3 linked regions of the Homo sapiens genome follow. Changing the gene in region 3 together with the main gene of any one other region gives a genetic interaction. Each region holds a gene or a part of one and is shown on either strand. Other genes may lie near its edges.

What was found.
Region 1: changes in PHF20L1 (region 3) and FBXW7 are lethal when combined (synthetic lethality), as found in Homo sapiens cells (one study listed by BioGRID).
Region 2: changes in PHF20L1 (region 3) and CSK are lethal when combined (synthetic lethality), as found in Homo sapiens cells (one large-scale study listed by BioGRID).

Annotation. Positions count from the first base shown.
Region 1 is NC_000004.12:152,410,528-152,414,187, forward strand, and holds part of FBXW7 (F-box/WD repeat-containing protein 7), read right to left. Parts: intron 2,003-3,660; 5' UTR 1,953-2,002; intron 1,346-1,952; 5' UTR 1,277-1,345; coding exon 776-1,276; coding exon of another isoform or gene 746-775; exon of another isoform or gene 633-745; intron 1-632. UniProt on the Homo sapiens protein: Substrate recognition component of a SCF (SKP1-CUL1-F-box protein) E3 ubiquitin-protein ligase complex which mediates the ubiquitination and subsequent proteasomal degradation of target proteins.
Region 2 is NC_000015.10:74,798,961-74,801,429, forward strand, and holds part of CSK (tyrosine-protein kinase CSK), read left to right. Parts: intron 1-311; coding exon 312-531; intron 532-1,451; coding exon 1,452-1,545; intron 1,546-1,720; coding exon 1,721-1,786; intron 1,787-1,862; coding exon 1,863-1,962; intron 1,963-2,051; coding exon 2,052-2,142; intron 2,143-2,469. UniProt on the Homo sapiens protein: Non-receptor tyrosine-protein kinase that plays an important role in the regulation of cell growth, differentiation, migration and immune response.
Region 3 is NC_000008.11:132,778,265-132,781,924, reverse strand, and holds part of PHF20L1 (PHD finger protein 20-like protein 1), read right to left. Parts: intron 1-3,660.

The sequences.
Region 1 (3,660 bases), on a different chromosome or scaffold from region 3:
AGAAAGTAAGGTTTTACAAGCAGATGTAAAACATGATTTAGCATTTCAATTATTATTAATCCAAGTGTGTAAGATACTTCATTCCAAGTCAAGTTAGGTTAAACGATACGATGTTAAATCAGTTTGTATATTGTTTATGGCCTAAAATCACTGTAAAATGTAAGAAATAAGCAAGTAGGAGTAAGAGGATGAACTACCACAGACATTATGTTAATGTCTATAAAACAAGTATATTCAAGTTAAAATGTTCCTTTCCAAAACATAGTTTAACTTGTAAGTCTACTCTACATGAATATTCATTATTTCTAATTCTCAAATGATAAATAACTAGAACTAATTTGAGGCAACTTCTGAGTAATTTATGCCTTAGAGTGACACTTGTGAATAGCCCACTCTAGCAGCTGCATTTTGTAAATAAAAAGTTTCTTCATTACTTGATTTACACAAATCATGTTTCACCCGAAACCTCTACACCCCACACAAGCTACTAATCCCTGCCCGGGACGCAAGGTTTAGACGAAAATTTGATGTTAATAATTTTTCATAGTAATAGGCTCAATTACTTTCCCTCCATTTGTACTCAGATTGTCCCATTATCAGTATTTCTACTTGTAATACTTTCCATTACCTTCTGTAAGACAAAAAACTAGTTCATTTTATTATTACACATCTTAAGATTAATTTTTAGTAATACAAAGACTGTGAGGAAAGTTTCATTACAATTAAAATAGATATGTAAAGTTTCTCAGGTTAACAATATATTGAATATACTCACTTTTGTTGTTTTTGTATAGAATGGGGAGGAGAGTTGGTGAACGGGCAGGTCCACAATACTACTGGAGTTCGTGACACTGTTAGTATGTGTATGTTCATCTTCTCTGCTACTATCATCAGACTGATCAAAATCGTCACTCTCCTGGTCCATCTCCTCCTCCTCCTCATCCTCCTCATCTTGTTCACCAGCATGTTCTTCATCTTCCTCTTGTTCTTCTTGGTTTCCTGAGGAGTCCTCATCTACCGAAATAAATCTATTATTGTTTTCTTCCAACTGTCCTTGCTGGGAATCATTTTGGCCTCCAGGTCTAGGTTCTACTCCAACAACTTCACCATTCCTTGCAGTGTGCTCCTCCTCTTGTTGTCTGAGTTGCTGTTGCTGTTCCTCCTCTACCACACGATTCATCTGTTCTTCATCTACCTGGCTTGAGGAAGGGTTACCTCTCAGAGAGCCTCCAGTTCGTCGTCTTTTGCTGCCCACAGAGAGCAGTTCCTGATTCATTTCCAAAAGCCAGCTTGCTACTTCTTGGACCTTGGCTAGACTATCAGAAGATGCAAAGGTTTTCACATTCTGCAGGGGAAAATAGGGTAAAAAACAAGATTTGTACAATCTATATTATGTTCTACTTTCATGTTATATGTCTACTTTCTAAATATCATTAATGATTGCAAAAAAGTATTGATGCCACCAAGGCATTAAAATGTTCTTTAGTAAACAATATAGAACATTTCAATTTTAAAAGTTATAAGACTTTATAAAGACATGCACAAAAACCATAGTAAACAACACTAATCCCTTTTAATAATTTTTAGCATGAAGATTTATAGTTTAATTCCTTTGACCAATAAAACATAATATTTCAAGCAAATAAAACAATTTTAATTTTACATCAGTAGTTCATAGACTATATCCTATATAAAACTTCCACAAAATTTTAAGAAGTGTATCAAAAAAAATTTTCAGTGTTCAGTTAATTTGGGAAATGCTGAGGTAAATCAGATTAAAAGGCTTTTTACCCTGGGTATTTCCCAAACTTTTCTGATCACAGAATCTTGCCTTCAGACACAGTTTTCTAGCAGGTAACAATTATAATCATTATTATTTTAATTTTTTTACAAATGACTGGACAGAAAATGAACAAAAAATTTATTTAAAAAAAAAGTTCATAAGTTCATACCCTCTGACCCAGTAACTCCACTTCTGGCAATCTATCCTAAGGAAGTAATCCTAAAACAGAAAAAAAAAATTTATACAGAGGATGCTCACTGCAGTTTATCCACGAAAGCAAAAAATAAAGATAAAAATAAATGTAAATAAAAATGTAAATAAAAATCCAAATGTTCAATATAAAGGAATCTATGAGATGGGATATATATGGTGTAATCCCTAAACATGACGTTCATAAAATATTTTTAAAAACATGGATGTTATAATATATTATGCTAAGGGGAAAATGCTGGAAATTGTGATTATAGTATGATTTTTAAACTGTATGAAGACTAGAAGACAACATTTCAAAATAAACTGCATCTTAGGCAGTGGTATTACTGATGCTTTAAACTTACTTCTTTTTATCATATTTCTCAATTTTTATATATCAAGCATGTTTGCCTTTATGTTTTTTAACCTAGGCTCTAGAATTTTATCTGATACAGCATCTTTTCATGATATTCATTCTTACATTTTATCCTTTGCTGGTATCTATATGGACATCTTTGAAGTCAGATAAAATGCCAACATGTTGTGCACACACAAGAAATTATGCACCCGTGATCTAAAACTTGAAACTGCTAACAAATGAAGTATTGTCAATTCTAGTCTTTTTCAGAGAAAACCTTTAGTATGATTTACAACAGTGTATCATAAAACACAAACATCAACAAACAGAAGCCCATATCCTAAAATTTGAGGAAGGTCTTTTATTTCTTCCTACCATAATACAAAATGTCAAGATATATCAAATATTAATATAGAACTTATTATTTTATCGGTAACTGATGTGACTGAACTTGAGTTCAGTAAAATAAAATCTGATGGCTAACAAACAACATTAAGTTGCATGGTTTTCTTGGCAACTGGACATGATGGGAATAGAAATGATTCAAGGTCAGGAAGAATACTAATAAAAGAAATAGAATTTTAAATTGAAAATGTTCCTCACTTTGCAGGCAAGGTAATCAAGGCTCAAAATGATTTAGTAAATTTCTCAAGATTACTAGTTTCAAGTAAAGCAGGGACAAGAATTTAACACCCAACTGAGTCTCCTTTCATGCACCTTAAAGTAACTACATAAAATCCTGAAAGAATATTATTCTCTAACACTGATACTGCCTTCTTTTCCAAAACTCGAATCACTACAATACTCAAAGATTATTACTCTAAAACAAATTATTTGCTGAGCATTCAATATGCTTCCTGTACATGTCAATTTTCTGGAGGATAATGTTTAGAATAATGTCTCTTTCAAGTTAACCAATGACATTTCATCTTTTTTGACCAGAACCCACAGTAAAATTATGTTTAACATCACAACTCTGCATGCATGCATTTAAACATATTAAAACAGTGATTTCAGAGAAAGGGAATTATGAAACATTTCTGGTATCTAAAGTCCCTATAAATCACCACCGTTAATCAAATACAGTTGATTCCCATTCACAGTAATTGTGTTCTATAAAATTGCTGCAACCACTGAATTAACAAATACTGAGCCATTGCTCCTAGGGGAAATACAGTTCTCACAAGCCTCTGGTCACAACACTGTTGCCAACTGATCAATGCATAACCTTTTTTATGCGTGTTTCTGCCTAAATATATCTTTAATATACATTGATTCATTAGCATCGAACTCATGGTCAACAGCATTATAACTAATGCCTGAATTA
Region 2 (2,469 bases), on a different chromosome or scaffold from region 3:
GGGGAGGGAAGGGGCCTTGGTCCTCCTGAAGGAGCATCAGGAGCAAGCAGGGAGGCCAGAGTGAGGGGCTTGGGTGTTGGGGAGGGCCTCAGGAGGAGGTGCAGGGTGCGGGTGCGGGACCTCACAGAGCAGGGCTGGGGGCAGAGGCAGGAGGGTGGCAAAGAAGGGACAGGGAGCAGAAGAAGAGGGCCTCAAATGCCTGACTGAGCGAGTGCGAGCCACGGGTGCCAAGCAGAGGGAACCCCTTCAGAAAGGGGAGCCAGGGTCAGTACCTTTGGGCCACCATGACCTCCAGCCCTGCTGCTCCCCAGTTGGTTCCACGGCAAGATCACACGGGAGCAGGCTGAGCGGCTTCTGTACCCGCCGGAGACAGGCCTGTTCCTGGTGCGGGAGAGCACCAACTACCCCGGAGACTACACGCTGTGCGTGAGCTGCGACGGCAAGGTGGAGCACTACCGCATCATGTACCATGCCAGCAAGCTCAGCATCGACGAGGAGGTGTACTTTGAGAACCTCATGCAGCTGGTGGAGGTGAGCTGGGGGGTACAGAGCCTTGCTCCCACCCTCACACACCCTAAACCCATCTGGGGCCCTGGCTTCTAGCTCCAGCCCCACTGCTTCTGCGTGGTGACCAGCCATGTGGGGCAACTTCTGTGAGCCCTTGTTTCCTCACACCTTGGTGGAGCAGCTGCTGCGTGCCAGGACTCACCTCTGACCCCACAGTGCCACCATGAGGAGGGGAGCCTTATCCTCATTTTATAGACCAGGAGTTGAAGGTTCAGAGCAGTTAGGGGACCCACCTGAGGTCCCACAGATATAATTTGGTGCCAGGACTAGAATCTGAGTCTGTCTGATCCCAGAGCTAACTTTCCTCCAGCCACTCACAGACCTGCATGCTCAGAAGCGTGTGCAGAAACATGAGCCATGCGCCTTGATCGCCAGGGCCCCTGAGGCTCTCGCACCTGCACGGACATGCCCACAGGTCCCTGCAGCTTCCCAGGCCAGCTCTGCCAGCCCTGGCCAGGCCACACCTGGCATCCGGTAGCCACAGGAAGCCTCCCGTGTCCCTCTGTATTCACTCTTATCTCCCTCCCCTACTGGCCTGGCTTGGCCTGTGGCAGGTGAGGGTGGGGTCCTGGGCACTCCTGGCTAGAGGCTGGTTTCAGGACTGAGCCATGGGTTGCCCTCTGCATCAGATACCCATGGGGCCCAGAGTGGTAGCAGCAGCTGAGTGTCCAGCAACCGCATGTAGGGTGGCATGGGAAATGGGCCATACGTCATAATCTGGGACTTCCCTAACCCCTGCCCTACCAGAAATGGGGAGCCCTCCCCACTCAGTGACTCCAGGCTAGGCGGGGCTGGCCTCTGCCGCCCTCTGGTGGTCAGGCCTGGACGGTGCATATGGGGCACCTTGGGCTGTCTCTGAGCACCCTGCCCCCCACACCCTGCAGCACTACACCTCAGACGCAGATGGACTCTGTACGCGCCTCATTAAACCAAAGGTCATGGAGGGCACAGTGGCGGCCCAGGATGAGTTCTACCGCAGTGAGTGCACCCCACCCCAGACCTCTTGCCCACCCACCTCCTCCCACGCAGGCTTCCTGGCACTGCCCCATCCAGGAACCTCCAGAGAACCCCAGTGCCTGATAGTCCAGTCAGCCTCTGTCATCCCAGCCATGTCCCTAGTGGCCTCCAGGCCCTCACTGGCCCCTCCCCACAGGCGGCTGGGCCCTGAACATGAAGGAGCTGAAGCTGCTGCAGACCATCGGGAAGGGGGAGTTCGGAGGTGAGCTGGGCCGGGCCCCCTGGGGGGGTTCTGAGGGACTCCGAACTTGGGAACAAGACCACCTCTCTGCCCCCAGACGTGATGCTGGGCGATTACCGAGGGAACAAAGTCGCCGTCAAGTGCATTAAGAACGACGCCACTGCCCAGGCCTTCCTGGCTGAAGCCTCAGTCATGACGTGAGTGGGGGCGGGGTAGGGGGGAGGTTGGCCTAGGTTAGGAGTGAGGCACCAGCTTCCCCTTTCTGACCACTCTCGTCCTGCCCCAGGCAACTGCGGCATAGCAACCTGGTGCAGCTCCTGGGCGTGATCGTGGAGGAGAAGGGCGGGCTCTACATCGTCACTGAGTACATGGCCAAGGTGGGCACCTGCCGAGACCCGGCACTCAGGCCTTCCAACTGCCCCGAAACCCCCACTGTGCTCTAGGGCCCCTGCTCCCTCAGTCCCCCGACCCCAAGTGAGCTTTTAGGTCACCAGGGCTGGGCTTTTGTCCTGGTTTACCATTCATTGACTGTAACATTGGACAAATCATGTCACCTCCAAGCCTCAGCATCACATCTGGGAAATGGAGATAATAACAACTTAGAGATTTGTGAGAGTCAAGGGATAAGGCATGAATAACACAGAGCAGTGTCCGGCATGGATGTTCTGGCCCCTCCCCACTCCTTCCCTGTCTCACACCTCCCT
Region 3 (3,660 bases):
ACACTACTCAGGAGTTATGTTTGGTCAGTGTAGGAGAGATCCAATTATCAAAAAGCAAATACTGGGACTAAGATGACTGACCTCTTGATGGCTTCTCAGGGCCTGTGTCCATTAGTACTGATAAATAAACCACCAATGAGTGTTCTTATGTAGCTATAAAGTTACTTTGAAAATAAAAATAAATCACTACTTTAGGCCTGGCGCAGTGGCTCACGCCTGTAATCCCAGCACTGTGGGGGACTGAGGCAGGCACATCACAAGGTCAAGAGATGGAGACTATCCCAGACAACATGGCGAAACCCCATCTCTACTAAAAATACAAAAAAAAATTAGCTGGGCATGGTGGCGTGCGCCTGTAGTCCCAGCTACTCGGGAGGCTGAGGCAGGGGAATCACTTGAACCTGAGAGGCGGAGGTTGCAGCGAGCGGAGGTTGCAGTGAGCCAAGATTGCGCCACTGAATTCCAGACTGGCGAAAGAGCAAGACTCTGTCTCAAAAAAATAAATAAAATAAGATAAAATAAAAATAAATAAATCACTACTTAAAAAGGTACAATGCATTTTCAAAGATAAGGTATCTTTCTGATCTGTAAGAATTATACGATATGGTTTATTCAAGCAATAATAACATACTTTTCCTGAGAAACACAGATTGAGTCTTCCTGTTAAATCAAATCTACCCCAAAGCTAAAAGTGAGAGCTTAACTTCAGATTATTTCCACCTACTAAATTTAGAGTTTATCCTTTTATGTCTAGACACATACCAGAAACTATTTTCCTTTTTTATATATGAGAAACCAGCCAGGAGTACACTTTGGGAGGCTGAGGTGGGAGGATCATTTGAGGCCAGGAATTCCAGACCAGCCTGGGCAATACAGTGACACTTCATCTCTACAAAAAAAATTTTTTTTTAAATTAGCCCAGACTTGTGGTGCACACCTGTAGTTCCAGCTATTCAAGAGGCTGAGGTGGCAGGATAGCTTGAGCCCAGGAGGTAGAGGTTTTAGTGAGCCAAGATCACGCCACTGCACTCCCAGCCTGAGAAACAGAAAAGACTCTGTCTCAAAAAAAAAAAAAAAAAAGCAAGAAAAACCTTTAATAGGCATTTTGGGTTCTTCACTAGCACCACTTTCCTTTTGCACTTCTCTTCAAAAGGTGATTTATCAACATGTGATAAGTTAGTTTCTCAGTAATATACTGCTTATTGTAAATGTTTTGAGTATAGAGACAGTAAGCAAGATTTGCATTCCTGCTCCTCCCTATCCAATGCCCATAATAGTTCAAACTACATTTATCTCAAAGATGACTCAATACTTTTCAAAGAGAATTGAATAAATTTGGAAGACTAAGCATTCAATATGGATGCAAAAAATAGAATATGAAAGAAGGGAAAGAGAAGAGTGGGAGAAGAGGGAGAAAAGAAATTTCTGTATATTTTCAATGATTAACTATAATATTTTGCTTCTCACAAGAATGTCAGTTTCTTGTCAAATAATTCTATAATTTTACTTAATATTAATGCAAAAATTTACAGAATTTCCATGAAATGTAAAATGGTCATTTACAAATGGAATAATATGAAGAATTAAGTTTATTATCCTATTTATAAATAAAATGTTAAGAGCACTAATCTCAGAACTTTTGTGTCCCATATAAAATTCAATACATCTTAGTAATTAAATAGTTGGTCCAAGAGCACACCACCTAATACTAAATTTAAGGGGCACCTAAGCCTAACTAGTTCTTGAAACTACTGACATTAATAAGCAAAATTACCATAAGAAAATTATTTTTGTAAATTACCTAGAATACATATATACAATATTCTTAATCCTTTTTTAAATAAGGAGCCACCTGAAACAGAGTGCCAAAATCTTTATATAAATCAGCTTATAAAAATAAAACTGATAACAAGTTTCAGTGATAATATGTGATTATCCTGGCTAATGCTTATTTCCATTAAAGAGAACTATTATTACCAGGGTCATTAAAATTAAATCTAAACTTCATCAGTGAGTACATTTGCATGACACCGCTCAAATAAGCACATATGAATTTTGTGGCAAGAAGATACAACTTTCATTTGTTCTCTGAAATTCCAAGTATTCTAAAAACACAGAATACTCTAAAAGTACATTCAAGCATGGTTTTAAAAGTTCTTTTTTGTAGTCTTTTGAACTACTGGATCATAAATTTAACAGCTCCTAAGTTAGAAAACATTTTACTACTGAAAGAAAATTTCTCACTAATATCAAAGTTATATTAATATCCCTGAAAATTACTGACAGAACTAATCAACTATGTGTTTCTCCAAAACTGGAAGCTAGCTCAACTGCAACACCGTCAGTTGGGAAGCCTAATATATTAATATGAATTAAATAAGTCACAAAGTCAGTAACTTAAAAAATAAATAAATCACTTAAGAGTAATATCAAAGAAGTAACAAGTATTATTTCTTATACCCTTGTATCACACAGACATTCAGTAGTATGCCTTTGGAGTAAAAAGCTTCTCTTGGTCAAATGAGAACCAAGATAGACAAGTGCTGCCTCAACTGGCATTTTCTGTTGCATGGTCTAATGCTGAGTTTCTCAATCATTTTTACCGCCACCCACCCTCATTCCAGTTGTCATTTGGCAATGTCTGGAGACATTTTGATCGTCACTAGGAGAGATGCTACTGCCTAGTTCCCAGGTACTTCCCAAACCCCTCCTAAGAATTACCATGTACATTCTTCACCTAGTGACAGTATCGATTAACCTCCCCATCTCAAATTGTAGCTTCAAACTGTCCTAAAGTGGAGCTCAAAACAAGAGGTCATTAAGCTGGGGTCAGAGATATGTGCCAAGCTCTAACGCCAGATGTTAAAAGAGAGAAACCCCAGCCTGGTCTATACAGTCAAATATTATGACTAAACAAGATTTCTCTGCCTGCCATTGCCAACTCGGGAAGTTGACTTAATACAAATCAATCAAAAGTAAATCTACAAAATGCCCAGTATGGTTTTAAATCAGAGAAAATGTCAAAAAGTCTGGGAAAGTCCAAGAGCTGCTAAACAAGAACTCGCATCAAAATAAACGGGCTTCAGGAGGAGCAAAGGCAGCATCCCTCCCAGAAGCGGAACCCCTCTAATGCCCCTCTCAGGTTAGGAGCCTGCAAATGGCAACAAAAGACATCTGCCAAGACAGCAGAATGAGGGGCCAGTTAACCCAAATGAGGAATACGCTCCTTAGGAGAAAGGAGAATCCTCCTCATTCCTACTCTGGCCCAGGGACCCCTGCATGTAGCTTCCCCTTCTCTCCTTTCCAGATAGTAGTTTTATACCAATTCATCAACTTTTCCTAACCACTGTATAAAGGCTATGTTGGGAGGTGTTTAAATTTACCACTTACCACAATGGCCAGAATAGGGGGAGACACACAAGTTCTGAAAGGACAGCCTATTTTGCACTGGAGACAGTAACAACCTGCCTTTAGGTTAAGGCCCACCAGGGAAAATAGGAGGTTAAGTGTGATTTTGGTTTTAGGTGAGATAATGAATAGTGGAGATGTTTTTGAAAGTGTTCACTATGAAAAAATGCTATGCTAACCATTAATATACTCTGTAGTTTGAAAGACTACCACTGACAGACCAAAAATACCAATTTAAATCAAAATTTATCC